Linked DNA regions of Homo sapiens: regions 2, 3, 4, 5, 6 and 7 are each linked to region 1. A link means that fine-mapping ties the variant in region 1 to the expression of a gene that starts in the linked region. Tissue or cell type: whole blood. Region 1 holds a variant in brackets; each other region holds the start of a gene. Each region is shown on its reference strand, or each on the opposite one.

Region 1 (4,077 bases):
CCCCAGAGCAGACTGCATGCCTTAGAAAAGGCCCTGGGAACAGCTGTATCTTGTCCTTCCAGGATCCTCCAGATAGAGAAGCCAGACGTTGGGTGGAGGAGGGACTCAGATGGGGCTTGAAGGGAAGGGCCTTGTGAGGGCTGTAGGTGGCACACACTGGCAGAGGCACTGAACATACGTGACCTCCATCCTCACAAGAACCTGGCAACCAAGTGGCAACCCCATGCTCAGAAACAAAACTGAGGCTCAGAGAAGTTGAAGAATTTGTCTAAGGTCATGAAGCTGATAATGGAGGAAAATGGGATTCCAACTCAGGAGAGTTAAGCTCCAAGCCCTTGATTTTACCACTTGGGCCTTGTTACTCAAGGTCCAGGAACAAGTGGCACCTGTGCCACCTGGAAACTTGGTAGAAATCAGATCCTCGTGCCCCACTTCAGATGTACAGAATCAGAATGTGCATTTTCTCAAGAGTCCCAGGTTTAAGCATGTGTTCTGCCTTCCTGGGGAGGGTCCTTGAGCACTTTGGGGTCACAATTCAGCACCAAGTGGTGGTACATTCCCAGGTCAGGAAGAGGCTGTGTGTCTCTGGAGTAGAAACCCTAAGAGGCATAATAAGCAATAGTGCTTAGGAATAAGTGCTCAATTGTGATAATCAAACAGATAAGGAAAATAATGAGAAGGTGAGATTTCATGAAAGACAAAAAGACTAGTAGATGTTACACCTCTGGTTGTTTCTGAGTTTGTGAGCTCTTCGTCCATCTCTCCATCCACTCATTCATCAGAATGACTAAGGATCTAAAATGTTGGAAGGACACAGGCTGTCTCATTTTGCCTGTTTGGCCCACAGAGAGAAGTTAAAAGAGTTTGTTCTTACACCTAAGATGAGCTTCTAAGTTCAGTTACCAGAATTTTCAAGCAATGCAGAAAGTGGCATTCTGTGGTGGTCTTTAGAAAAGCAGTATCTCCTAAATCAAAGCAAGAGAGAATAAGACCACACATAAATCAAATGAAGAAAGAGTAGTGCCATCAATGATAGAGACAGACCTGAGGAGAGGGTGGTGGTAGAAAGAATCTGAATTAGAAAAGGGAGGAGAAGAAAGCCATGAGTGATGCTTGTCAAATTTGGGACTGGGCCCACACTGGCATTAAAGAGACCTGAATAGTACCTAGAAGTGTTCTGGGAGTTTTCACCATCCTGTGCTCCAATCATATCCTAATAGTTACTGATTTGGAAGTGGTACCCTGGGTCACATATGTCAATATCAATAGAAAGAAATGATTCTTATGGTAAATTCACAAAAGGATTATTTTTGGATTATAATTTGGCATCATGTGAGTTTGACTACCATGGGCTTGTTTCTGAGAATGTGATCACTTCAAGATGCCCTTACAAAATTGATCCTCTCTATTCTGAAAAATTGTAAGCCCTTGACCTGGCTTACTCACCTAACTACCGAGTGGCCCAATCAGCAGGTCTCCTTTCCTGGCATGGCACTGTAACCTCCTCACCCTGGATCTCTCCCACTACTTTCTTACAATTCAGTTAAGGGATCACCCATACCCACATGCTCACTGCCTCTCCCACAGTTAGTTCCTGAATCTGTTTTGACTGAGGTTGCAATTACTTAAACTTTTGCAACCATCCCCTTCTCTCTATTCAACAGGCAGAACCTAATATCATCACTCTTATTACGTGGCTAACCAGGGAGCTCCTGTTCTGTGCCTCAATTACCAACTCTCCCTGTCCTGTGCATGCCCTAGTCTATGGAAAGGACTTTAAGTGCCCTTTTCTGTCTCCATTTAGTCCTCCAAATGCCTTGCTTTCAATATTGAAGTCCAGCTTCTGAACACCCTACCAGGTGGCAAGGCTCCAAGAACCATTTTTTTAAGTGGTTCCATACTGCTTGGCATCATTTAGCCAATATGCTCAGGGTCTACACTCCATCTACCACTGGGATCCCATCACCACCTGCCTACCCCACTTCCACTCCCACAGCTGACAACTTTCCCTGAACAAGATTGAGATTGTTGTGCTCTTGGACACTTGTGCCCAGCCTCCCCTGCCCTGACAGCATCCTTGCCCTGTGGGTTCCTCCAGCCTCCATTTTCTTACCCCAGTGGGGAGACTAAGCACCACCTATGACTATCTCTTTACTTCATTACGTGGCTGGAGATGGAGTTTCTTCTGTAAATGGCATCTGACCTATCTCAAGATAGAGGAGCCCAAAGGAGTGATCCGAGTGAGTGAAGTGAATTAGTGACAACTTCATGCAAAAAAGTTTGAGACACGTCATGGAGATGAATTAGGGAAGAGGTAGAGGAGGACCTCCAAATAGAGGAAATGAGGTAACACTTGCAGG[G/A]ACTGGGCAACCACCAGCTCAACAAGGGAGGGGACAGAGGTCAGCCTGTGGCAAGGAGCTCCCAGCCCCTCCCTCTCTGGGAAGAAGCAGTGGAAGCACCTTTCCTCCAGTTCTGCTCTGGACTCCCAGCAACAAACCGTCATGATCTGGGAACTTTGCACAGCCAAGGATGAAATGTCAGCCCTCAAACCTATGTCAGAGCTGCTGTGAAAATTGGAAATAAGAAACTTATGATAGGAAATTCATTTGCATGTACTATTTTACTTTTAACCCAGAATGATAGCTTTAGGCTTAAGCCATCCTATATCATCTGTATGAATTATTTCTTAATTTTCACTGAATGTTCAAAAGTAGAGTCATGTTTAATCATATAAGCACAGAGATGCATATACACACATATTCATACCTGCATGGGGCAGGGGAGTGTGTGTGTGTGTGTGTGTGCATAAACACAAGTTGCTGGGAGGAGATGAAATGAATAATGCCATACACTCACAACTTAAAAAAAATTGGGAGTAGTAGTATTTTGTTTCTCAGTTATTAATTCCAGTTAATGTAGTGATTAGAAAAGGAATCCACAAACATTTACTGGAATCTAAGTTCAGCCAAGCATAATGAGACTGGCTCATGTTATTTTTAATAGGCTTTTCATAGCTCATCCCTTAAATATAGAGAAACAAAGAGGTAAGAGAAATCAAGTCTATTCAAAGGCACATTCCATCCATGATACCAAGATTACAGCAGTTCTCTCATGGCTATAAAGCTTTGTTCCTGTCTCTTTAGCCAATTCAATAAGTAAGCTCACAAATGGGATAAAATAGATTAAGGAAGCCCTAAATGTAAGTGTCAAAGATAAACAGAAAACATAGTATACTCTTTCTTGCTCTTTTTGCACTGTTGTGTGACTTGAAACATTTTCCCTAGTTAGTTAGGAGACTTGGAATACTTCCAATCTGCCCCTACTCCTTGCCGCTTATAAATTCTTAACTTCCTATTGATACCAAAGATATCACAAGAAAACAAATCAATATATCATATTAATATAGATATAAAAACCTTCAACAAAATACTAGCAAGCCAAATCCAGTAACATATAACACAAACTGTATACCATGTGTATGCATACCAAGTGGAACTTATTCCAGGAATTCAAGGTTGGTTTAATATCTGAAAATTAATTAATGTAAAATAACATATCAACAGAATAAATGATAAAACCATATGATCCTCTAAATTAATGCAGAAAAGACATTTGACAAAAATCTAACCCCCTTCATGATAAAAACACTCAAAAAGCTATGAAAAAAATGGAAATTTCCTGAGCCTAATAAAAGACATCTATGAAACATCCACAGCTAATTTAATAGAAAATGACTTATTGTTTTCCCCTAAGATCAGGAATAAGACAAAGATATTCATTCTCACTGCTTCTATTCCACATTGTACTGGAAGTTCCAGCCAGAGAAATTAGTCAGGCAAAGGAAATAAAAGGCTTTTCGACTGGAAAAGAAGAAGTAGAACTATATTTATTTCCAGATGACATGATCTTATATATAGAATATGCTACAGAGCACACTAAAAAAATAGAATTAATAAATGTGTTCAGCAAGGTTGTAGGATATGACACCAATATGCAAAAATCAGTTGCAAATCTATACATGAGCAATAAACAATTTGAACGTTGTTTTAAAAATTTCATTTACAATACCATTCAAAA
Region 2 (4,077 bases), not on the chromosome of region 1:
TGGATACTAACTGACACACAAGAAATTGCTGGGAACTTAAATCACAATTAAGTAAAGTGGTTGCTATCACCAATTAATAGGAGAGGAAGATTTACTTAGATGAAAGATCCAGTCCATATTACACTACAGAACAATAAACTACTTCCTAAGCCCTTTACTACCCAAACCGTATAACTGTAGAAGAAAAAGCAGGAAAAGAAAACCTAGACATAATTGCTGTGATTAAAAAGGAACTGAAAGGAGACAATAAATATGTATTTTGCGAGGCCAAAGATTGGGAAGTAGGAAAATATAGAATTCAAGACATAAAACATAATCCCTACAAATGACAATGATCCAATAATTCTATTTTGAATATATACAGCATTTCTTTTATAAACTTGAAGAATAATTATATCCATTACATCAAAAAAATTCTATTTGAGGAAAGTGCCAGTCATTTTCCCTCCATTTTATTTTCCGTTAGAAAAACTAAAGTAATAAGGGGTTAAGCAACTTTTTTAACTTCAAAGGGCAAAAGCTGAATGAGCACCAGTTGTCCTGCCTTCTAGAGAAAATCATAATTTTATACAAACATTGTATAAATTGCCTTTCTTACAGATGTATGCCTAGGCAGGTGAGTGTGTATATTATTTGGAGGGGTGGCTAATACTGAAGTTAAATATAGTGGTGAGAATGTGGAGCACATCAAGTTCATAGCTTCACAACTTCATAACCTCCTTCACTGTAAGATTTTTGTCCAGGACACCCCTATTCTGCCTTAACACCTTATTCTATGAGGCTTAGCTCAGGTCTTGCCTTCCCTGACCACCCTCTGAGCTGGATGCCTCTTTCCTTTACCTCCACTGTCCCTGTCCATAATCCTGTCTTTCTTAGGCATTATCACTTTGATCTGAAATGTTCTGTGGGCGCAGCAGCCTCTCTACTTGGCTTTAAGTGCTGCAGGGAGCTTATTCACTCTTGCATCCTCATCTCTTAGCACAATGCCTGGCATAATGTCAGTGCTCAGCAAGTGTTAATAATACGTCCTGTCCTTCCAATGTCCAGTAGTTATTTCAGTAACTAAATCCTCTTTTTTAAAACCACCTTATGCAAAGTTAATCCTCTGTGGTTCAAAAAGTTCCAAGACAACTTAAAAGACAAATTTTCCATTACTTTGTCATCTCATCTGTCGAATTCATCTGTAATTTGTCTAATTCAGCATCTCCCACTGTGTGTGTTCCCATGAGTTGGACTCCAAGAGATGCTCTTGGTAAGCGTATCTATGTGGGAAACATGTTACTCAATCTAGCAAGGCAGCCAGTGCAGTGGTTTAGCACACAGGTGCTGGGGGCAAACTGCAGGCTCTGTCGGGCAAGTGATCATTCTGTGTGCTTCTGTTTCCTCTTCTGTAAAATAGGACTAATAACAGTTTTTCTCCCTCACAGGGTTGTTGCCAAGATTTGCTGAGTATTACACAAAAGGTTTGGAGTACTTAGTGCTAGGAACATACTGACTACTATTATTAAGCAAAGTTAAACAATTTCTTTTTCTTATTTGGTTTTATTTTGTTTGCTGGCTGTAAGACTGCTGAGAGCCTTTAGCATGCTGATGTACCCATGAATCTCCAGGGAAGCAGTATTCCCCACATTTACTTGATGGAAGAGCTGCTAGCATATCTCAGGGGTAATGGGCCTCAAAACATACCTTAGGAAATTCCTATTTATAAATTTAAAAGAACGTTAACATTTTCCAAACCCAAATTGGGACACTGATTTGACCTGTATGGCTATAACTTGGGAGCATTGGTACATAATATTAATATTTGAAGAGAGGACTGGTCTAGCAACACAAGTAAATAATAATAATAATAATAAAAGCCCAAGACCTATGTGTTACTACAATTAAAATATTTCTTTTTTTAAAAAATCAAAGTACAAGTGAAGTGACTTTTATTGATATTAAAGTGGGAACTGCAAATATGGCCCAAATAAAAAACCATGTAGGCTTTACGTATTATTTTCTGACACAGTTAAAAAACTATTACTTGACAAAGATGAAGGGCCAGACTTCCTTATTCAAAACCTCACGCCATTTATCTTAATTCTGCTGCATCTGATACTGACTTCCTCTAGAGCCAGGAAACTTTGCAAGTATTAAATAGCGTGAACGAAGGAGGGAAAGAAGGAAGTAACCCACCAAAGTGAAAAAGAGGAACAAGTTCTAACCCAATGCAGGTTTAAAACATAACCAAAAGAACAAAAGAGAGAGCTTGACACACCAATCTTGAGGTAAGTAAGAACCTGATTTAAGGTATTTGGATGATTAAACACTATAAGAAACAAGTTTGTCTTTAATTAATCAATGATTTTTATCTTACTACAGTTTTTAGAAAAAAATGCCTTACGTAGCTGTAAGGGGGAAACCCAATTTACAAACTGAGAGTGATGTTAATGTTTCTTTACAATATGATTATGCTTTGCTGTTACCTTGTTTCCAAACAGCAGGGCATTCTCTTACTTGAAAATTCCTGAAGTTTCTCAACAATTTGCGATTTTAAGAAAAATGTCAAATTGTTAGGTAACCTGTTGGAACTGCTTTCCAAAATGAAAACAGAGTCTTCTTTCAAACTGGTCAAAGTGAACATTATTTAAGTGTTAAACTATATTTGAATGGTTATTGTTTAAAATATGTTTTTCATTATAGTAGGTCTTTGTTCATGTCTCACAGGTTTTTTCCTCTAATGTTATTTCGAAGAAAATGATGCATTTCTTTTTCTGTAAAAAGTCTTCTTGTCTTTATCTTGGTAAATATCTCTTAGACAAACAATTTTAATATTTTGGATGTACCAGAATTTCTACTCTACATAGAATAACATAGATGGTAAAAATGCCTTTTCTTCTTAAAAATTAAGAGAGTAATTTATTGCCTTATCCTCAGCTACAGAAGTGACAATAGTTAGCCTTCCTCAACCCTCACCGTGACTTCTGTTGCAGGCCTAGTATCTTTCAAAAAGTTGATTAATTTCAATCAATACTTAAAGTGTATTTTGTAAATTTATTTCAAATATTCTGGCAAATAACTTCTTAAATCATTAACCATGTATACCATAAAATATCTTGCAGATAATTGGTGCTCATCTGTTTCAGACAGGAAATGAGGTCCTAATGATTAAAGTCATTTGGCTAAACTTTTGTCCTTGAACACAAGCACGGCTGGCCTTATAAAGGAGGGACCCTGCAGATTGTAAATCTTATGTGGCGGACCATACAGTTCTCAACCTCAATATTACTCCCAAAAATTCCAAGGAGATTAAAATGTTTCTGCATCTGGGGTGCTTGTCCCTGTATTTTTATCAAAAAATTGTATAAATTAGCTGCACATCTTATTTAATTTTCTTTTATGAAATGTCAAATTAAATATTTGCATATTAATATATTCTAACCTTGGACAAATTTATGAACGTTCATTACCATTAAACTTTTCATGAAAACTCACTGAAAGCAGAGCACCACTTTGTGAATTTCTATTTTTCTTCTCATTGTTACTATTATTATCCCATAAGGAGATTACTTCATTCATTAACAAATGTCTAATAGATTAGTCATTCTGTGTCTAATGCTGGTGTTGGTAATACAAAGGTAAATAATATATGATTTCCAACCTTCGAGAACCTCAGAGCTAATCAAGCTATACAAATTTTCTGACTGATGCACTTAGTAGCATGTTACAGATATTTGGATAAATAATATTTTGGGGAAATTTTTACCTGAATTCTCATTCAGTCACATTTTGGTTGTAAGGAAGTTACTTAACTTCTTTAAGCCTCTCTTCTTATCTATAAAATGGTGATATGAATAGTACCCACTACATATAGCAGCTATAGGATTAAATGAGATAATCCCTGTAACAGTTTTTAAAAGCTGAAACTCTTAACTAAACATTATTGATGATAATAACATTCCATAGATGATAATAATCATTTCACAGGCACTGTTGGATCTATGTCTATGTCTAGACTGAAAATATACAGTAATAATGTTTTGTTGATAAAATCACAATGGAACATGCAGCCCAGTTGAACACTTCCCCTTCTTG
Region 3 (4,077 bases), not on the chromosome of region 1:
TTCACCATATTGGCGAGGCTGGTCTGAAACTCCTGATCTTGTGATCCACCCGCCTCGGCCTCCCAGAGTGCTGGGATTACAGGTGTGAGCCACCATGCCTGGCCACAAGACTCCATCTCAATAAAAAAAATAAAATTAAATTGAGACCTGGCTCAGATACTTTTCCGTTTTTGCCCCACAGGCAGGTTGTGGGTGTAAGGATAGGACAAGGCAGTGAAATCAAACCTGTGGGACTCTCTGAGATGAAGGGGGTGGCGGGTACACTGTGTGTGCATTTGTCAGACCTCATTGAACTTAAGAACCTGTGCTTTCTACTGCATGTAAGTTACATTGCAAAATAAGAAGTCCAGGCCGGGCGCCGTGACTCACACCAGTAATCCCAACACTTTGGGAGGCCAAGGCAGGTGGATCACCTGAGGTCAGGAGTTCGAGACCAGCTTGGCCAACATGGTGAAATCCCATCTCTACTAAAAATACAAAAATTAGCCAGTCATGATGGTGTATGCCTGTAATCCCAGCTTGGGAGGCTGAGACAGGAGAAACACTTGAACCCGGGAGGTGGAGGTTGCAGTGAGCCGAGATTGTGCCACTGTACTCCAGCCTGGTGACAGAGAGAGACTCTGTCTCAGGAAAAAAAAAAAAAAAACCCAAATACTCAAGCTCAGTGTGATTGCCTGGGCCAGAGAAGGATGGTCAGTGGGCCATCTCCTCCTCATCAGGGACCAGAAGCGCCACGGCCTTAGGGTCCTTCTGTGAAGAGGCCAGTATGAGGCTGTCCTTTCTCCCCTTCAATCCCCATCCTCCCCCAAGGTCCCTTTGAATAAGCAGGCAATAGAAATGTGTTTGTTGGGCCAACAAGCCAAGCACAGCAGCCCCTCACCTCTAGTCATGTTCCCTCCCAGATGGAAATTCTGCAGAACTGCTACAGCCTGGGGACCTCCTGAGACTTGGCAGCCTGTGTCTGGGAGGGCTCTGGTCCAGGAGACCCTCACTGGCCTCTTCCCAATCCCTCCTCTAGCCCTATACCTATTTCACCCCGAATTCCCCTCTCCTGAGCCCTGGGCCAGAGAGGCCAACCTCTTGTCTCTCCCCTCTGACCCCTTACACAAGCCACCCAAGGAAGAACCACCACCCCTATCAGGCCCTTCCAAATCAGATCTTGCATAGAATCATCGAATCACAGGCTGGCAGAGCTGCCAGAGCCATCAGGAGCTCTCCAGGTCCTCCCAACTCAGTGTAGGTCTGGACCAGCAGTGCCGGCATCTCACATCTCCCAGGAGTGTGTTGGATATACAGAATCTCAGGTCGCACCTGAGACCGACTGAGTCTGAATCTGCATTGTAACAAAATCCTCAGGTAACTTGTATGCACAGGAAAGTATGAAAAGCACTGCTCTGGTCTAGTCTATCACTGTCCCCCTGCCCCCAACACCTGCAATTGAATAGAAGTGGACACTGAAGCCTCAAGAGTATCAGAGGCTTGCTCAGGACACACAGTGAGTCGCTGGCAGAGCTGGGACAGATCCACAGCACCAGGTGGACCAGTTCCACCACACCCATCTCTTTTCACCCCACTACCTCTCCAAAGCAGATACCCACAAGCCTGCAGTCCAGTGTTGGGGAGACTAAAACAGCCTGAGGACACCCAGTGAGGGGCAAGGACTGAATCCTTTCACAGGGGTCTTCTCCATCACACCCCAACAAAGTCCCCCACCCCCCGTTCTGCTCTTACCATGCCAAGCTGTGGCCACCAGCAGGAGCAGCAGAACTCCTGGGCCCATGGCCTCGGTGGGGAAGTGGCAGGCAGGTGCAGGGCTGCAAGGTGCCCAGGGCACAGAGCTCTCAGCTACTAGCTCCGCAGGGATCGGGACACTGGACACACGTTCCTCTCCTCTGCACTGGCTGTTTGTCTTGTTTTCCTCTTCCTCCTCCTTGGGCTGATCCTCTTCTTCCCCTTTTAGCTAGGCAAGGCAACCACAGAGTTTGGAAATCTTGGGTCTTTAAGAAGAAAACAAAGCCTTGAACCCAAGAGGGAGGGGTCGCAGTCTGGGGCAGGGCCAGCCTGAGCTTGGGGGGAGCTAGCTAAGTTTGGGGCCCTTCTAAAGCCATCTTCAAGGGGTCTTGGGAGAAGAGACATGTCCAAGAGCAGCCAGACCGTTAGTCAGTAGCACAAATGAGGGTCTTCAGAGTGATCAGGTGGCTCTGGCAGATCCCAAAGAGAAGTTAGGTTGCATGATATTGTGACATATATATTTTTTCTTTACCCTGATGTCCTGGCTTACAACTCCTAAAATCCTTGGAATCTCCAAAGTAATGCATATCTTTTAAAAATTTATTATTATTATTTTAGAGACGCAGTTTCACTCTGTTGCCCAGGCTGGAGCTCTGTGGCTCGATCATAGCTCACTGCAGCCTCAAACTCCTGGCTCAAGCCTTCAAGCTGTGAGATCTGACGTTATCTCTAGGTAAATATAGTGTTCAAATTGAATCGGAGGGCACCAGATTCGTGTCTGCTGCAGAATCTGAACAATTGGTTGATTGCTTGGTGTATGGGGAAATATGCCCCATCCTCTACATCTGGGGTCAGAAGTATTTTGTGTTGTGAGACTATAGGAGAAACGGAGTTTGTTTTCTTCCTGTATACAGGTTGGTCTGGGAGAGCCTGATAATATTGGCAATAAGCTTCCTTTTACAGGACATTTACTAGCCAAACCTTTTACATTCACTGTCTCCTTTAGTACTGCAAAACTTTATGTAGGTAAGTACTATTGTCATTCTCATTTCACAGATGGGAAAACTAAAGCTCAGAGAGATCAAATGCCTTAAGCTTGTCCATAGTCAAACAGCTACCAAATGGTGGAGATAGGATTTGGATCCCAGCAGTCTGGTTATAAAACTATCTTTTGTGCGTTACTTACATTGTTTATTTATTTTTACAAAGAATCTAATTGTTCTGCATAATTCTTAAAATATATAGCATTCCTTTGCTCCCTCTTTTCCTGGAGGCAATTGCTTTTACCTCTTTTAGTTGATTCGCTTAGTATTTTACTTCTTATCTCTAAAGAACATGGTCATTTCTTCTTCTTTTTTTCTTTTTTTTTTTCTGAGACAGGGTTTGGTTCTGTCACCCAGGCTGGAGTGCAGTAGTGTGATCTCGGCTCACTGCAACCTCCACCTCCCGGACTCAAGCCATCCTCCTACCTCATCCTCCTGAGTAGTTGGGACTACAGGGGCATGTGCCACCATTCCTAGCAAATTTCTGTATTTTTGGTAGACATGGGGTTTCACCATGTTGTCCAGGCTGGTCTCAAACCCCTGAGCTCAAGTGATTCGCATACCTTGGCTTCCCAAAGTACTGGGATTATAGGTATGAGCCACTATACCCAGCCTAAAGTTCCTTCTTGAAATTGAAAAATCCTGATATAACATTGATCCAGGAAAATGATCATTCCCGTGTACTCAGGTGTGTGTGTGGTGTGTATGTGTGTGTTTGTATGTATATTTATGAGTGTATATATGTACTTTCTTTTTCAGAAAAGTGTTTTGAACCTTTAGCAATCATGAATGTCAATCAAAGCTGACTCAAGAAGAAAAAGAAAATCCAAATAAACCTATAACAAGAAAAGAAATTTAATCAGTAATCAAAAACCTCCCGACAAAGCAAAGCCCAGGACCAGATGGCTTCACTGGTGAATTCTCCCAAACATTTAAAGAAGAATTAATACCAATCCTTTTCAACTCATTCTATGAAGCCAGCATTTTTCTGGTACCAAAGCTAGACCAAGACATTGCCAGAAAAGATAACTACAGACCAATACAAATGCATGAATATAGAAAGCAAAAATTTTCAAAAATGTACTAGCAAACCAAATCTTTTTTTTTTTTTCTTTCTTTCTTTCTTTTTTGAGACAGGGTCTCACTCTGTCACTCAGGCTGGAGTGCAGTGGAGCAATCTCGGCTCACTGCAACCTCTGCCTCCCGCGTTCAAGCTATTCTCGTGCCTCAAACTCCCGAGTAGCTGGGATTACAGGCATGCGCCACCATGCCCAGCTAATTTTTGTATTTTTAGTAGAGACAG
Region 4 (4,077 bases), not on the chromosome of region 1:
CCAGAGGCAGGTGCTGGGCCTATATGCCTCCTCCCACCTTTCTCCCATGCTCCCTGTGAGGCAGGCATCTAGCTCTCTGATGGATGTGGCTGCCTCCTCATTGAAATGAAGAAGGGGCTCAGAAGAAACAGCACCTCTTGATGGCTGATGCTGTAGGTCTCTGAGCTAATGTGGACTAGAGGACAAATCCTGTTTATTCTGAAGTTTTGAAGAGTCTGAGATGCTTTCCTATTTGCCAATCAGTCAGCCTGAAAAGGTTATCTGCATATGTGTTCTAACAGAACACAGGATCTCTAATTCAGAGACCGACTGTATCTTGCGTCAGTTCCCTAGGCCCAAATTTCCCATTATGTCGGGGAGTGACACAGTGAAAGCCTCCGGGTGAAGAGAGGTTTTACAAGAGAGGAACCCTAATATTATGAAACTCAGAGCTTGTGCAGGATAGGAGGCTGTCCCTCTTCCTTGAGTGGTAAGGGAGACAGACAGAGAGGGAGAGGGAGGGTGTGTGAGTGTGTGTGTGTGTGAGAGAGAGAAAGAATAAGGAAATAAGCAAATGGCTGTGGGTTTTATTACCTTTGAAAGGGAGCAGCTGGCTCTTGGGAAGTGCATAGGAGAGGAAATATTTTGTATCTTCCAAATATCATGCAAATACCTTTTAATCCAGATGCCAATAATCTGCTCAGAAAGCCCTGACTGCACACTCATTGTTTCTCCCATGCAGCCCTAGCCAGGAGTCCTTTCCTGGCTCCTTCTATCCCCGCAGTTCTTTTCTTGAGGAGGACAGATAGGGTTTCTTAGGGAGTTAGGATGAAGAAAGCCTAAGTATGATGAATTCCCCATCCAGCACTGTGCCCAGCACATAGCAGACATCCAATAAAGGTCTGTTAAATGAATGACACGGACCCGTTGTTTAAGATTTTAATAAAGGTGGGGCAAAGGGTTGAATTGGTCGAAAAGTCCTCAACGTCCTGACGGGACTCCCCTGAAGCCAAGGCAGTTTGAGTCCATTCATTATTCTGTCTTGGATCTTAGGCAAAGCCCCGGGCCCCTTGGAGCAGCACCAGGGTTCCCGACACCCCCACCGACAGGGTCGAACGTGCACAGGCTGGGACCACGCCGGAGTTCATTGAGCCCTCGTGGGGGAGGGCAGTTCCAGGGACCAGGAAGGGATTCCCGTCCAGTGTCAGGTTATCCACCTCGGGCAGCTCGTCAGGCTGCGGCGCCCTGTTCAGTCTGTTGCAGCTGAGATCGAGCACTCTGAGCTTGGCTGGCAGTCCTTTAGGCACCTGTTCCAGCCCAGCGAACGACAGATTGAGGGAGTTCAGGGCGCTGGACCACATGCATCTCGGAGCGCTAGGGTTTACGGTGGCGCGCAGCGAGTTGTGGCTGAGGTCTAGGCTGTGGGGCTGCACACCTGCCGCCGCCAGTGCGGCGCACACGCCTGTGGGCGTCTCCATTCCTGTGTTGCGCAGCGCTAGATTCTGGATGGCCGGGAACTTGTGGGGACAGAGAGCCGCCATCAGTCCGCGTTCGCCCAGTCCAGGATTGTCAGACAGGTCTAGGCTGGTAAGGGCCGGGAAGGCGCGAACCTGTTCGCAGGAAAAGGCAGGCGAGTGTGCTTGGGCAATGCTCAGTACCTTGAGGCCTGGCTTGAGCCACTGCTGCAGCTCGGCGAGCCAAGAACGCCCTGTCGCCCACGACACGTTGCGTAGGCGCAAGCTGGAAAGTGCAAGTCCTGTGGCTTCCAGAGGCAGCGGAGGCATGGTGCCGGTTATCTTTAGGTCCTCGAGCGTCAGTTCCTTGAGGCGGGAGTACGCTAGCACACGCAGGGCGCCTACCAGTAGCTGAGCAGGAACCTGTGCGGCTCCCACTGTGAGCCGCCGCACGCGGAGAGCCTTGACCGTGTCAGCATACTGCCGCGGGTCGGCGTCCGCATCGACGCGCTTTAGAAACGGCTCTAGGTTGAGACCGCCGGCATGGATCTCCACCTCTACTGCAGACACACACTGGAAGGCTTCGGACCAGTCGGGCTGAGGTTCGGAGAAGTTGCAGACGCAGCGGAAATCTTCATCGTCCAGCTCACAAGGTTCTGGCGTGGTCGCAGAGACGTGCACCAGCGGCAGCAGCAGCAGCAACAAGCAGGACGCGCGCTCCTGGGGAGAGAGCAGAGGTCTAGGAGGCCCCATCCAACCCCTGTGGCTCCCGAGTGGCACGCGTTCGACCCCAAGACCCTACACTCACCATGGTCGATAAGTCTTCCGAACCTCTGAGCTCCGGACAGGCTCTGGAAGTGCTTTAGCTTCTTTCCTACACAGCGGCACCCGCCGGCTTCCAGGCTTCACACTTGTGAACTCTTCGGCTGCCTCTGACAGTTTATGTAATCCTGGGATGTCATTCAGTTCCCTCCTCTGTGAACCCTGATCACCTCCCCACCTCTCTTCCTCCGAGCCAGCCCCCTTCCTTTCCTGGAAATATTGCAATGAAGGATGTTTCAGGGAGGGGGACCGTAACAGGAAGGATTCTGCAGGGCATCTAGGGTTCTGTGTCTCCTGGCAGTGTCCTGATGACTCAGGCGCCCCAGGCGGTGAATGCCCTGTTGACTCGGGAGCCTAAGCCTTCTCTGGTGGGTGTGGGAAAAGGATGATCCTCAGTGCCTTAGGCCAGTACCATACTCTGCACTATCCAACCCCCCAATCCCCCTACCTTATATCCCAGAGAATCTACTTGATTCATTTCTTTGACTTCTTCCTTGTCTTGGTTTATGTTGATCTCCTGCCACCAAATCCAAGTCCCTGAATATCCTCAGATATTTAACTGCATGTTTTGTGGAAGAGATTGTGAACCTCATCTGTTGGCACCAAGGGGGGTAGAATTAGGTTCAAGAAAAGGAAGTTGGTCTAAAGAAAAATTCCCCCTTCCTTTTTTTTTCCTTGCTCCTTTGATTAAGTAATAACTTTCTTTCTTTTTTTTTTTTTTTTTTGAGATAGAGTCTTGCTCTGTTGCTCAGGCTGGAGTAGAGTGCCATGATCTCGGCTCACTGCAACCTCCGCCTCCTGGGTTCAAGCAATTCTCTGCCTCAGCCTCCCGAGTAGCTGGGATTACAAGTGCCCACCACCACACCCAGCTAATTTTTGTATTTTTTAGTAGAGACAGGTTTTCATCATCTTGGCCAGGCTGGTCTTGAACTCCTGACCTTGTGATCCACCCGCCTCGGCCTCCCAAAGTGCTGGGATTACAGGCGTGAGCCACTGTGCCTGGCAGTACTAACTTTCTTAAAAGTGGATGTATTTAACAGAGACACATTGGCCAAGTCTCTGGGTCACTTACACTATCCATTTTCTGTCCTGAAATTGTGAAGCAAGGTATTTTGAATCAGTTTTCCCACTTGCACGTTGCTCTCTCCTGCCCTCCCCTCAGTACAATCTCTGTGCCCTAGGAAGGAAGGGATGGGACTATGTTGAATGAGGATTAATTAGTAACTCACCAGTTTCGCAAAAAACAGACAAAAACAGAAAACAAAACAAAATGAAAAAAACAGCAAACAAAACAAAACAAAAAAACAACAAATGTCCCAGAGAATAAGGAGCTACGCATTTACAACAGCCCTCACAGGTCCACATCCCTAGACCTCTGGGGAAAGAACTATATGAAAGTCTTTTTTTTTTTTTTTTTTTTTGAGACTGAGTTTGGCTCTGTTGCCCAGGCTGGAGTGCAGTGGCGTGATCTTGGCTCACTGCAACCTCCGCCTCCCAAGTTCAAGCAATTCTCTTGCCTCAGATTCCTGAGTAGCTGGGATTACAGGAGCCCACCACCATGCCCGGCTAATTTTTGTAGTTTTAGTAGAGACAGAGTTTCACTATGTTGACCAGGCACTCCTGACCTCAGGTGATCCGCCCGCCTTGGCCTCTCAAAGTGCTGGGATTACAGGCGAGAGCCACCACACCCGGCCTGAAAGTCTTTTTTACTTTTATTTATTTATTTGAGACGGAGTTTTGTTCTTGTTGCCCAGGCTGGGCGCGATCTCAGCTCACTGCAATCTCCGCCTCCCAGGTTCCAGCAATTCTCCTGCCTCAGCTT
Region 5 (4,077 bases), not on the chromosome of region 1:
ACCACTGGGCGGTCCAGGCGTTTGAAGTCAAGACGTCCCCGACAGTGGGCAGCTGAGGCTACCACCACCACGCGGCTAGGGGCACATGCCTTCAGGCAAGGCAGCAGCAGATGTGTCAGCAGAAAGGGACCGATATGGTTCACCCGAAGCAGCAGGTTAAACGCCTCACGGGTCCGGCCACAGGAACTGATACCTGGGGCAGAGGCTAAATGTGAGCGGCTGCTCCAGAAGGAGCTCTGCAGCCTTGGCATCCCTATCTATGAGATGGGAGAAGGGGGCATCCTTCCCATGTGTCCACTGGCCCCAGCAGGGCCCCCGCTGGAGGGGGCAGTTGCCCCTGGCCACCCGCCACCCCACCCCCACGCAGGGCCTGCTGCCCCTCACCGGCATTGTGGATGAGGATGTCCAACCGTGGCTCAGAGCTCAGAAAGGCAGTGGCAAAGGCCCGCACCGAGGCCAGACTGGCCAAGTCCAAGGCCATGAAGATGACCTCATTGTTCCCACTCTCCTGTGGAGAGGCAAGGGCTGGGCTTGTCACCAGGCATCTCTCTCCTCTTCCCTCTCCCCAGGCACCAAATTCTGAGAGTCCATCTCCTACTGTTTACTAAAATCTGCCCCTGTGTCTTAGAGTGTACTAGATAAGTGTGTGGATTCAAATCCTGACTTTGCCTTTTACTAAAGTGTGACCTTGGGCAAGATACTTAATCTCTCTGGGTCTCAGTTCTCTCACTGCGTAAAGGGAATAATAATAACAACAGTCCCAATCTCACTGAGCTTTTGTGAGGATGAAAGGAGTTAACGTGTAAAATACACTCTAGCAGCACTGGGTAGGTACTTGCTATTATTATTATCACCTCCTTTCCCCATTACCATTTACCCTAAAATCTGTAACTTCTCACTGGTCTCCTCTCTCCCGCTCTTGCCCCCCCACTCCAGGCACCACGCAGCCACAAAGGAGTTCCTTCCAAAGGCTATTCTGACAGTCCGGAGCCTACTGAGGGCTGTTCATGGTCTCCACTGGTCTCTGCTGCCCAATCTATAAAATCCAAGCTTCTCAATAGGCTCTAGAATGTTCTCCAGCCCCCTCATTTGCCCATCTTCCTCATACTTTGTGCTCCAGCCTCATTAAATCTTTTTCTCAGTTTTTCAGATCAGTCCAGCTCTCTTTGCCTCAGAGCCTTTGCTTATGCTGTGCCCTCTGCTGTTCCCTTTCCTACTGATCATTAACCCAACTTCTACTGATGCTTAAACGTCTCAGAACTGCAATTACGGCCTTCAGGAAGCCCCTCCCCCACTCGGCTCTGGTGCGCCTTCCTCGGGTGACCCCAGCGCTCCGTGCACTCCCTCTTCGCGCTCAGCCGCCCGCGCCGCGCTCTCCTCCCTGGACCCGGATCCTCCGCAGCCCCTTTGCTGGCTTCTCTGTGTCCCGGCGGGTTCTCGGCTCACCGTCCCACGCGCCCCCGCTGCCTCTCACCTGGCGGAGGTCGAAGGCAGCCGCCTCCCCGCGCTCCTGGCTGCGGCAGGCCAGCACCACGCGCGCTCCCCGGCGCGCCAGCTCCAGCGCCGTCATCTTTCCGATGCCGCTGTTGGCGCCTGCGGACCGCGGGCGGGAGCCGAGCTGAGCTGAGCCCGGCGGGCCGCTGCTACCGCCGGCCCGGCCTCCTCTCCGCGCGCCCCGCCAGCTCGCACTCACCCGCCTCCGCACTCACCCGTGACCACGGCCGTGCGGCCCCGCAGGTTGCCCATGCCGCCGCACGGCGGGGCCTTCACCAGGTTGTAGTAGACAAGCACGTAAGCGCCCAGCAGCAACCCCGCGCCCAGCAGCAGCGCCTCCATGCCGGCCGCGCCTCCCGGCTCCCGCCCAGGCCCCGCACCGCCCTGGATCGCCGCCAGGCGGCTGCCGATCCGCCCTGCACAGGCCTGGAACGGCGCCCGGGCGCGTCAGCCTCCGAAGGCGGAGGCGGGCAGGAGGCTGGGCAGGGGCGTGTGCGCGTGCGGGTGCGCGCCGGCCCTGCGAGCGCCCCCTAGGCGTGCGTCGGCGTCCTGGGGGCGTGTGCCTCTGTGGACACCTTTGAGGTGAGTGTGTGCGCTTGGGCCCTGGGAGCGCCCCCTAGGTGTGTGCCTGTGTGAACTCCTGGGTGTGTGTGTCCACGTACACCCTGTGAGTGCACGCTAGGTATGTGCATGCATCTGCAACGCTTGTATGTGAATGATCTCTAGGTGTGTATGTGCCCATGTCCCTGAGGATCACCCTTTGGGTTGTGTGCGTGCCTCTGGATCCTGTGTGTGAGCTCCTGTAAGCACCTTGTAGGTGTTTGTGTGCATTCTGGCAGAGTCCCTCCAGGTATGTGCCTGCATCTGTAGTCTCTGCCAGTGCATGTGCTTGCATATCTCCATATGTTTACTCGAGGTGTATGTAGCACAGTCCCTCCCTTCTGAAGTTAGGTGTGTACATGAATACACGTGTGTCTTTGAGTCTAGTCCTAGATGCTTTTCCCTCTAAGAACAAATCCTTCTCCTTCCTTCCCTTCTGCACAAATCCTTCTCCTTTCCTTCCTTTCCTTTCCTTCCTTCCTTCCTTCCTTCCTTCCTTCCCTTCCTTCCTTCCTCCCTTCCTTCCTTCCTTCCTTCCCTCCCTCCCTTCCTTCCTTCTTTCCTTTCTTTCTTTCTTTTGAGACGGAGTTTCACTCTCGTTGCCCAGGCTGGAGTGCAGTGGCGTGATCCCGGCTCACTGCAACCTCCGCTTCCCGGGTTCAAGCAATTCTCCTGCCTCAGAATCCAGAGTAGCTGGGATCACAGGTGTGTGACACCACACCCGGCTAATTTTTGTATTTTAGTAGAGAAGGGTTTTCACTATGTTGGCCAGGTTGGTCTCAAACTTCTGACCTTAAGTGACCCACCTGCCTCAGCCTCTCAAAGTGCTGGGATTACAGGTGTGAGCCTCTGCACTGGGCCAAATCCTTCGTTTTCTTATCTTCACATCCAGCCCCCAGCTTCTAGGATTCTTCCGTGTTCTCCCCACACAGGCTAGAGAGGACACTGTTAAAGGTGGCACAGGCAGTTAAGGGGTGTCAGAATTCACTCCTTCATTCCCCCTCTGTATCTCCCTACCTCAACCCCACTAGTGCCTTCCATGGCTGAAGGGAAGCAGGAAGAGATAGAGAGTAAAATCTGTTATTGCCTTTCAGGAGGAAATTTGCCTTTGGAATGGTTCTCATAGGTGATAAGAGACAGGCAGAGAAGCTCCATCACTCAATTACAAGTGACCATGATGGCAGGAAGGGTGGGGCTGGCTAGGAACAAATGGGTAAGACCATTCCAGGGCAGAAGGCCGTTGCCTGATACATTCAGTACAATTTAGAACCTGGTATTTGGCACTTATGGTGTGCCCAGCAGTGTAGTTAGACTTGGAAATTCCGAGTGGAAGATATACAAGTTTCTGTCCTTAGGGAGTTCAAAAAGCCCATTAGGGCACCGGGAGCAGAGTGATGACGCCTGCATGGGCAGATGAAAGTCAGGGACAGACCTCAGATTCCAGGGCCAGTTTCCTATTTAGCTGCACTGCGGATTCGGGTTTCCATTGTAGATGCTGTGGGATGAGGCTGGGGGTAGAATATTCATTTTCTATCCCTAAGGCAAAATCCTGACACACAAGCAGATGCACCTACACAAACAGTGCTGGAATATACACAGAGGTGCTCTCCATCTGAGGAGGCTGACCTCAGGAAAACTTCCTGGAGAGTTTTTCACTAAGATCTGGGAGGAAAGCATGGAATTTGGTTTAATGAAGGTCCCCGGGACTTGAGAATTAAGGTAATGCAGCAGACTCGTTTTTTGATGAGGAATAGCAGTTGTAGAGAAGTGTGACTGCAGATCACATGACTAGAAGTGACAGGTCAAGACTAGATTCCACTATCAGTCAGGGTTCTCTGGAGAAACAGCTCCCCCCGGGCCAGCAGACGCACCCATGTCATTCCATTGTCATCCACCCACCCTGGCTCACTTTTCTCCAACACCTCCCCTACCAAACTTCCCTATGGGAATGAGACCTGTTCAAAAGGCCCCCCACCTGCTAGA
Region 6 (4,077 bases), not on the chromosome of region 1:
TGTCCAGTCAGCCGGCGAGCTCGGCAGCTTCCCCAGGGACACAAAGGGTTAAATCCAGGCGAGGGGACTCGGTCGGATTTGCCTCCTAAACGCATTTTCCAGTTCATTCCCCAGCACAATATGCCTGGGCTGGTCCCAGCCTCCGTCCCCACCCCACCCGTCAGAATGGGCCACCAGGGCCACCCCGGGGTCGGGCGCGAGGTTAACCCCTCGGCTGCCGGCAGCCCGCACCTCGAGGAAGGACACGCGGGGCACCCTCGGGAAAGTGGGTCATGCAGCTACTTGGATGGCAGGAAGCCCGCGGTGTCTCCTCCAGGGAGAGCCCCCAGAGCTGGGAGCAGAGTTCCGAGGGGGAGCCCGGTCCCGCGCCAGGCCGGGAGGAGGCTGCCCCGGCCTCACCCTCCAGGAAAGGAACCGCAGGTGAGCGAGGAGCCGCCTCTGCCGCAGCAGCCGACTCTCCGCGCCCGCTGTGGGGCGGTGTGGGGCGGGAGGGGGCCCGAGCGTCCTGAGCCGTCTGGCAAAGGGGCCGCCGAAAGAGACGAAGCCCCCCCGCCATACTCCAAACCCGCAGCTCCGAGACTGACGCCCTCCCCCTGGGGCTGTTGTCTCCCACCCCAAGACGGTGATTACGGTGATTATTTTGCATTTATGTAACACGCAGTGTTTCCAAACTGCTTCCCGAGCAGAGAGCTGGTTATTAAATAAACAGAACGCTATTACATATTATTATTTTTTGTAAAGAACTGAGCGGAGAAAGTGCTTTCATGCTACATAGAGACGTGCATCTGACTGCTTCCCTGCAGGGCAGGCGGTTCGGCTTCTCAACCTCTTTCTCCGCCGTGCCACCTCCCACCCCCTTTACCCAAGCCGTGACCCAACTTTTCTGGCTCCTTTCACTCCCCACAATCCAGTCGTGCCCGCCATCCGGCTCCCAGCCCCGGGGAGGCATTGGATGGGGGTGGGGACAGCAGAGGTGAGCGCTCTTACCTGGGAGGAAGAATGCGGTCAAGCCGAGAGCGAGTCCCCACCAGCGTCCAGCGGCGCCCGCAAGCCCCATCCGAGCCATCGGGGGCCGGGGGTCCGGCGAGAGGGGCGGCGAGGGCAGCGCTCCTCGCGCAGCAGAAACCAGCCCGGAAGATGAGGGAAGATCGCTGGCGGTCGGCGGGCGCTCGAAGGATCCAGGTCAGCTGCAGCCGTCGGCCGGGGCGGGGTGGGCTGGGTGGGATCCGCGCGGCCGCAGTCCGGGCCCCGGGCCGCCGCCGGCTCAGAGGCTCGGCAGATGCCCGCCGCAAGTTGCACGAGTCATGCCCCTTCGCCTCCTCCGCTCTCCTCCCGGCGCCGGTCCCCGCCCTCTTCTTCCACGCAGAGCGGGGCTGGGGAGAGGGACCCACCCCCGGCGCGCCCGGCTGCCCGGTTGCGCGGCGCGGGCTCCTGGCCCCGGCCCGCTCACACCCTCCCGCTCGGCTCCAACTTGCAGGCGTCCATGGCCGGCCGTCCTCCGAGGGTGGCGGGACGCACCCGGGCGGCGCAGAAGGCTCGGGGCCCAGGCGGCGGGCGCGGGGCTCGGCGGTCGGCGGCCCGGGTGGCTCTGGCTGCGCGGCCGGGCGCGAGGAGAACGGGTCGGAGGCGCCGCGCGTCCCAGCCGCCGCCGCTCTGCCGGGTGCCGGCGATCCGCAACAATGTGGAGCCGCGCTCGCTGCTCTCGCTCTCTTTCTCTCACTCGCCGAGCTCCAGCCTCTCACCCGCTCGCCCGTGATGTCAGCCAGAGGGGAGGGGTTAGCGTTAACCCCCTCCTGGCCTCGATGCGCGCCCGCCGGGGCCCGGTCGGAGCCCGAGCGCACGCGCCTTCCCGACCGAAGCAGAGGCGGATCGCGAGCGCGGGCTGCGGGGTCCGGCTCAGGACCCTCGCTCGGGAGCTACCCCTCGGCCGCCTTCCAGCTGGGGAGCCGGCTGGAGCGCGGGCTGCCCTCCTCCTCCGCTGACAAAGGCAGGCAGTGACCCCTAGCGGCCGGCGGCGCCGAGGCGCGGCGGGTGGGGGTGGAGTTAGGACCGGGCCGGGGGCGGCGGTGGAGGAGAGGGCGGGATGGAGAATCCCGGCTAGCAGCGTGGGAGCTGGCAGGGCTTCTGCAAGCCCTCTGCTCCCACCCTGGCCCCATTTCACAGACGAGGAAACAAAGGCCCAAAGAAGAGTTCCGCCCGGGACGGAACGTGGCATAGCTCGCAACAGAACCCAGTCTCCGGAGATCCCTCTCCTCTGCACCACTTGGACGTTCCACGGAGAGGCAGCGGTGCGCGGGGCGACGGGGAGCTGCCAGAGAAGTCAGTGGTGGGCATGAGTGGGTGAGACGGGCCCACTGAGGTTTCTGGTAGAGTTTCTTTTCTAATCCCTGCTCCCTTCGGGGGTTCCTTTTCCAAAAATTGAAGCACCCCGCGCCCCGCCCTTGCCCAAACATAGCCTGAAAACGAGCTCTCCTCCAGTTTCCAGGACCTTAGTTTTGAGAGATTTGTGGGATTCCCGCGAAAGTGGATCGTCCAGTCAGTGTCCCTGGCAGGGCAGGGACTCTCCGCCCCATCCCGTTCACCACCCACTACATCCGGGTGTGGTAGGATTTCTGCCAAGGCGACTGCGCCCTCCGGGCCTTCCCTCTTCCCCTTACTCTGGTCCTCCTATCCCCATCCCCTCCCCCTGGGGGAGGAAGACAGACAGAGTTTCCCACTAAGGAGAGCCGAATTCTCCCCAGACCCTGGCCGGACACTGCTCCCTCTACCCTTTGCCCAGCCCTCTAGGCGGGCAGGAGCAGAGGGGAAGTGGCTGTTTCTGATAACACGTAAATTCTGGTTCCTCACTGGAGAAGGGGCAAAGACAGCGCCATATTCCCACTGTCTGGAATCCGGCCCTGGAGTGTCTCGGTTTCTCGCGGAAGTAGTCAGATCTGGCATTGTCATGAACACTCACCCACTCACTGTATGGTCTTTTACATTTAACAAATGTAACCTGGGCTTTCTTTGTGTCAAAACACAGTGCCTGGCTTGGGGATACAGAGACATCATCATTGTCCTGAAGGAACTCAATCTAGTTGAAGGGTGGGGGAAGACAGACATAGAAACGGATGTCGTAAACAAATATTTAATATGGGATTGTGTGGGTTTGGTGGGTCACAGAAAAAGTGCCCAGTTTAGCCCGGGGTGGGGTTGGTGTAAAGGCTTCAGGGAAGCGAACACAGGGTCTCGGTGAGTCATCTATCAGACCAAGGTAAGTGCTGGAGGGCAGAGACATAAAAGAGACTGGATTTAAGGTAGAGGGTCAGCACGAGCAAAGGAATGAAGGTAAGCAATAGTCAGGTGAGTAGGGGGCCCACAAAGGGTTGACTGGTTTAGCCTGAGCCTAAGACTTGAGGAAAGGAGAGGTCTGCAGATTCGTGAATCATGCCCGGTAGCTGCTAGGAGGGTTTTAAACTGGGGAACACGCTATCAGATTTAGTTTGTGGCAGCTGGGAATCTCCCATCTGGCTGCTGAGTGCTTTAAGGGCCAGGGTTGAATTGAATTCATTGTGATGGCCTTTAGCTCTGTGCCAGGCACACTGCAGGAGCTGAAGGCATGGTTTGAAGGGGCAATCCCAGATGTACCAATGTCTTCTTGTTCCCTGCTCTTACCCTCCCATCCTCTCCATCTTTATTTTATTTTATTTTATTTTATTTTATTTATTTTATTTTATTTTATTTTATTTTAATTTAATTTAATTTTATTTTATTTTATTTCATTGAGACAGAGTCTTGCTCTGTTGCCCAGGCTGGAGTGCAGTGGCGCCATCTCACCTCACTGCAACCTCTGTCTCCCAGGTTCAAGTGTTTCTCCTGTCTCAGCCTCCCGAGTAGCTGGAATTACAGGTGTGTGCCACCACGCCCGGCTAATTTTTGTATTTTTAGTAGAGACGGGGTTTCTCCATGTTGGCCAGGCTGGTCTGGAACTCCTGACCTCAGGTGACCTGCCCTCCTTGGTGTCCCAAAGTGCTGGGATTACAGGCATGAGCCACTGTACCCGGCTGCACTCTCTCCATCTTTAGGTCAGGCTTCTTT
Region 7 (4,000 bases), not on the chromosome of region 1:
TTAAGGGGCAAAAAGGGCTAGGAGGTAATGGGAAATAGAGACAGGGAAAGGGAGAGAGAGAGCAGGGAGACAGCATAAGAAACAGACCGAGAGACTGGGGGTGCAGGACCAAACCAGGGACAAGGAGAAGGGACCAGAGAAACCGAGAAAAACAGACGCCTCCGCCGAGGCAGACAGAGGTGAACAGAGAGAGGAGAAACAGACGGGAGAACAGAGGGAAAGGCTGGGAACTCGAGAGAAACTGGGTGCGGACAGATGGGAAGAAACCGAAACAGAAAAACAGAGGCTGGGAGAAACGGGGAGAGACACAGAGGGGTTAAATATAAGACAGAGAACATGACTGGGAGAGATGAGGGAGAAGGGTGAGAGGCAGAGAGCAAGGAAAGAGAAGAAACGCCCACGACGTCGGGGGTGTTTTTCAGGGGTCAAGACAGATTGGCGACACAGCAGGAGGCGCCCAAGGACATGACGTTGAGCCTCTCAGGGTCCCCCTTGGCCGGGCCAGGGAGCAGCGCCCCACGCTCCATCACCCCCTCTCCCCCTCCCGCGGTCCTGGCTGCACTGCTCCTGCCTCGCCCTCGCCCAGCGCCCCCAGCCCACAAGCCCCGGCCGCGCCCCTCCCGGCTCCCGGGGGCACCCGCGCTGGGCGACGCTGCCACCTGCCGGCCGCTCCCGGAAGCTCCGCGCCTGGAGTGCTGGAGGCGGCGGCCGCAGGGGGCTCAGAATCAGGCCCCTCCGCACTGGGGCGGCCTCCGCGGGGTCTTTCCAGGAATCTGGATGGGCCTGCTCGCCCGCGCCCCGGCGGGCCTGGCAGAGGACCAGCCCCAGCTGCGGACCCCGGGGCAGTCTAAACCCTGGGGCCTTGAGTTCCCGTTTTGTCAATGGGAGAAAATGCACCAACACCTCCTGTAGGATTTCAAGAGGGGAGGGGACACGAAGGTACCCACGTTGTGCTCCTGGTCTTCCTTCCTCGACCTGGAAATCTCAGGGCACTCTGAAATCAGCCAGGCTGCTCTGTCCCTCCCTTTTTGGTCAAAACACAATGGGGTGATATCCCCCAACCATAACCCCTCAAAATCTACCCTAGAACCTTCGCCTTCCCCTCCCTCAACCTCTGCCCCCATTTGACTTCTCACCAGACCCAGAGGTCCAGATAAGAAGGGGCTTCCACGTCCCCTTCCCACTCCCGCCGGTCCCGGCACCCCTCCCTGGAGTCTGGGGCACTTAGGAGTGGAGGAGTTGGGAGTTAGGAAGGCCCAGCTCAGCGGTGTGGAGTTGATCCCACCTCTTTTTAAATTTAGGTTATTTATTTATTTATTTATTTATTTAGAGATGGAGTCTCACTCCGTCGCCCAGGCTGGAGTGCACTGGCACGATCTCGGCTCACTGCAACCTCTGCTTCCCGGGTTCAAGCGATTCTCCTGCCTCAGGCTCCTGAGTAGTTGGGATTACAGGCACCCGCCACCACGCCCGGCTAAATTTTGTATTTCTAGTGGAGACGGGGGGTCTCACCATGTAGGCCAAGCTGGTCTCGAACTCCTGACCTGAAGTGATCCTCCCAAAGTGCTGGTATTACAGGCGTGAGCCACCGCGCCCGGGACCGCTTTTTTAAAAATCCGTTAATCTCTTCTACCTCCCAAATCCCAAAACCCAACCCAGACCTCTGCGCCTCCCTTCCTCCCTTCCTCCTCCCAGCCCCTCCCTGCCCCGAGTCCGCCTCTCCCGGTGCAGCTCCGCCCCCATCCCGAGGCGGGGCCCCATAGGTGGAGAGAAGTGGGAGAGGTCGCAGCCCCGCCTTCTCTACACAGGAAAGCTCAGTGGCCCCCAAGCCAGGATGTCCCAAGCTTGGGTCCCCGGCCTCGCGCCCACCTTGCTGTTCAGCCTGCTGGCTGGCCCCCAAAAGGTGAGACTGGGAGGTAAGGTTGTTGAACTTTTGGGCCCTACCCTTGTAGGTCAGGAGCCTGCTTCTGGAGCCTGGTCGCCACCTTCCAGAATCAGGATTTCCTCCTGACCACACACAGTTAGCTACTTCCTTTCTCTCTTTGCTGTGGAGGTGGAGGTGGGGGCAGCGGAGGAGGCTCTGGGAGAGGCTGGGTTCTCCCACCTCTGAGGGGGATCCTGTGGTGGGAAGTGGCCACCACCCACCACCTTATCTGACACCTAGCACGTCTCTGTGAATAGGGACTTTGGACCCCTTATTAGCCTCAGCTTATCCTTCCAGCTCCTTCCCGCCTGAGCTTTGGACACCTGGGCCAGCACTTAGCCCCAGCTCAGTTCCTCCAGTGCTGGGGGACCCTGGGATGTCCCCACCCTCTTTGGGACTGTGTCTCTGCTTGTTCCCTAGGGGAGAGAAGGCTCTTTTGTCCCCTTCTAGGGGTAAGTAATCCCAGCCTGTGGTGGGATTTGACCTGGCTGCCTGACCAAGGCTGGGGTGACCTCTGAAATCTGTGATTTTGAGAGGGAGGTGTAGGGTTCGAGTGTTCCCTCCGCCCTTCTGTTCCTCCCAAGTAAACTCTACAGGTGATGGGGGAAAGCTGTCCGGTCCTGGGATGGGTGTTTATCCTGGGAACAGAGACGGGTCTAGAACATGCATTTGTGTCTTATTTCCATTTAAGAACCGGAGGGAAGTCAGGGTCTTCCATAGTTAGGATTTTAGAACAGGGCACCTTCACACATCTGGGCTGAGCTTTCAGAGAGGCTCTGCCAAAACCCTTCCGTGGACCCGGGTTAGTGAGCAAGGTGTTCCTTCTAAATCACTGGGCGGTCAGTTTGTGTCAATGCTGGGCTGGGCATCCTCTGGTTTACCCCTCCCACCAACCCCAGGGGCGAGGTGCTGTTAATACCTTCAATTCTGGAGTTAAGTAAGCTGAGATTTACTTACTCCCAGCCCAAGACCACCCTGACGCTCCATAAAACTCAGCCTCTGAACCACCCCAGACAAGACTACCCCCTGGTTAAAATGTGGGGAGACAATCTGGGAGAAGAGCTCCTCCCCCTCCCAAACCGGAACTTGAGATTAATTTACTAAACCTGTTAATTATCCATTACTTATTAGCTGGGGTCCAGGAAAAGGACAAGGGCCAGAGTGGGGTCTGAGGGGGAAGGGGTGCTGTTGAGTGCCTGGATGGACCCCTCGATTTGTCTCCAAGTTCCCTCTCTGTATATATATATTTTTAATTTAAAGAATAGAGGCCAGGCGCAGTGGCTCACGCCTGTAATCCCAGCACTTTGAGAGGCCGAGGCAGGCAGATCGTGAGGTCAGGAGTTTCAGACCAGCCTGACCAACAACCCCATCTCTACTAACAATACAAAAATTAGCCAGGCATGGTGGCACGTGCCTGTAATCCCAGCTACTTGGGAGGCTGAGGCAGGAGTATCACTTGAACCTGGGAGGCGGAGGTTGCAGTGAGCCGAGATCGCACCACTGCACTCCAGCCTGGGCAACAGAGCTAGACTCCATCTCCAAAAAGAAAAAAAAAGAAAAAAGAAAAAAGAATAGAGACAGGGTCTCGCTATGTTGGCCAGGTTGGTCTTAAACTCCCGGCCTCAAGCAATCCACCCACCTCAGCCTCCCAAGGTATTTAGGATTACAGGGATGAGGCACCGCACCCAGCCTGTCTCCAATTCTATAGTCATTCCTGTGTGCTGTGTGATTTGGATTCACAGACTCACCCTTTCTGGGCCAACCTGCAGGGGTTCCTTCCTGTTCCTGTCCCCACAAGGGGACAAAGCCTGTGAGATGGTACTCAGCCTGGGACTGAGCGTGGAAAAGGGGAATTACCCCAACTCTTATTGGCTATCACTGGTATTCTTATCTTTACTGTTGTGATTTGCAATTGAAATATTTTATAAAGGTATAAAGATAAAGATAACGGTGGTTTTGCCAAAGCTGGCTTCCTATTTTTTAGCCTTGGTTGTTTGTCCCAGGAGGCTAGGGTGGGGTGAGAGATGCCCTTCCCCACCACCCATTTCCTATGTTCTGGCACCTACATCCCTCCCC

The links. PIP is the estimated chance that this variant, and not a neighbour inherited with it, causes the effect. A credible set is the group of variants that fine-mapping cannot tell apart.
Region 2: it holds the start of GAPT, and the variant in region 1 is the best candidate, but not a certain one, in a credible set for the expression of GAPT in whole blood (TOPMed, PIP 0.89).
Region 3: CSF1R starts here. The variant in region 1 is the best candidate, but not a certain one, in a credible set for the expression of CSF1R in whole blood (TOPMed, PIP 0.87).
Region 4: it holds the start of CD14, and the variant in region 1 is fine-mapped to the expression of CD14 in whole blood (TOPMed, PIP 0.92).
Region 5: DHRS13 starts here. The variant in region 1 is fine-mapped to the expression of DHRS13 in whole blood (TOPMed, PIP 0.97).
Region 6: NECTIN1 starts here. The variant in region 1 is the best candidate, but not a certain one, in a credible set for the expression of NECTIN1 in whole blood (TOPMed, PIP 0.86).
Region 7: TMEM92 starts here. The variant in region 1 is fine-mapped to the expression of TMEM92 in whole blood (TOPMed, PIP above 0.99).

Annotation. Positions count from the first base shown.
Region 1 is chr7:50,218,858-50,222,934 of GRCh38, forward strand. No RefSeq gene overlaps it. Among named protein-coding and RNA genes, the nearest start is that of IKZF1, 84 kb to the right of the region's middle. The variant G/A (reference allele first, on the strand shown) is at 2,361.
Region 2 is chr5:58,489,272-58,493,348 of GRCh38, forward strand. It overlaps GAPT (GRB2 binding adaptor protein, transmembrane), which reads left to right and starts at 2,164. Exons shown (of 3, transcript NM_001304431.2): 1 at 2,164-2,270.
Region 3 is chr5:150,084,648-150,088,724 of GRCh38, forward strand. CSF1R (colony stimulating factor 1 receptor) reads right to left here and starts at 1,907. Exons shown (of 21, transcript NM_001288705.3): 1 at 1,732-1,907. The coding sequence starts at 1,780. RefSeq lists a promoter at 1,780-2,212 and an enhancer at 1,965-1,994.
Region 4 is chr5:140,630,828-140,634,904 of GRCh38, forward strand. It overlaps CD14 (CD14 molecule), which reads right to left and starts at 2,348. Exons shown (of 2, transcript NM_000591.4): 1 at 2,242-2,348; 2 at 905-2,153. The coding sequence starts at 2,244. The coding sequence ends at 1,029. It also overlaps a transcript of TMCO6 not described here. RefSeq lists enhancers at 991-1,492, 1,221-1,280, 1,493-1,992.
Region 5 is chr17:28,901,109-28,905,185 of GRCh38, forward strand. DHRS13 (dehydrogenase/reductase 13) reads right to left here and starts at 1,971. Exons shown (of 5, transcript NM_144683.4): 1 at 1,710-1,971; 2 at 1,475-1,593; 3 at 385-508; 4 at 1-193. The coding sequence starts at 1,836. RefSeq lists silencers at 870-1,062, 1,564-2,193.
Region 6 is chr11:119,727,488-119,731,564 of GRCh38, forward strand. NECTIN1 (nectin cell adhesion molecule 1) reads right to left here and starts at 1,713. Exons shown (of 6, transcript NM_002855.5): 1 at 988-1,713. The coding sequence starts at 1,066. It overlaps NECTIN1-DT (NECTIN1 divergent transcript), which reads left to right and starts at 2,096. Exons shown (of 4, transcript NR_120587.1): 1 at 2,096-2,319. RefSeq lists enhancers at 1-237, 1,037-1,898, 1,899-2,759 and silencers at 1,309-1,628, 1,689-2,098.
Region 7 is chr17:50,272,668-50,276,667 of GRCh38, forward strand. TMEM92 (transmembrane protein 92) reads left to right here and starts at 1,799. Exons shown (of 5, transcript NM_153229.3): 1 at 1,799-1,903. The coding sequence starts at 1,835. RefSeq lists silencers at 404-743, 1,881-2,175.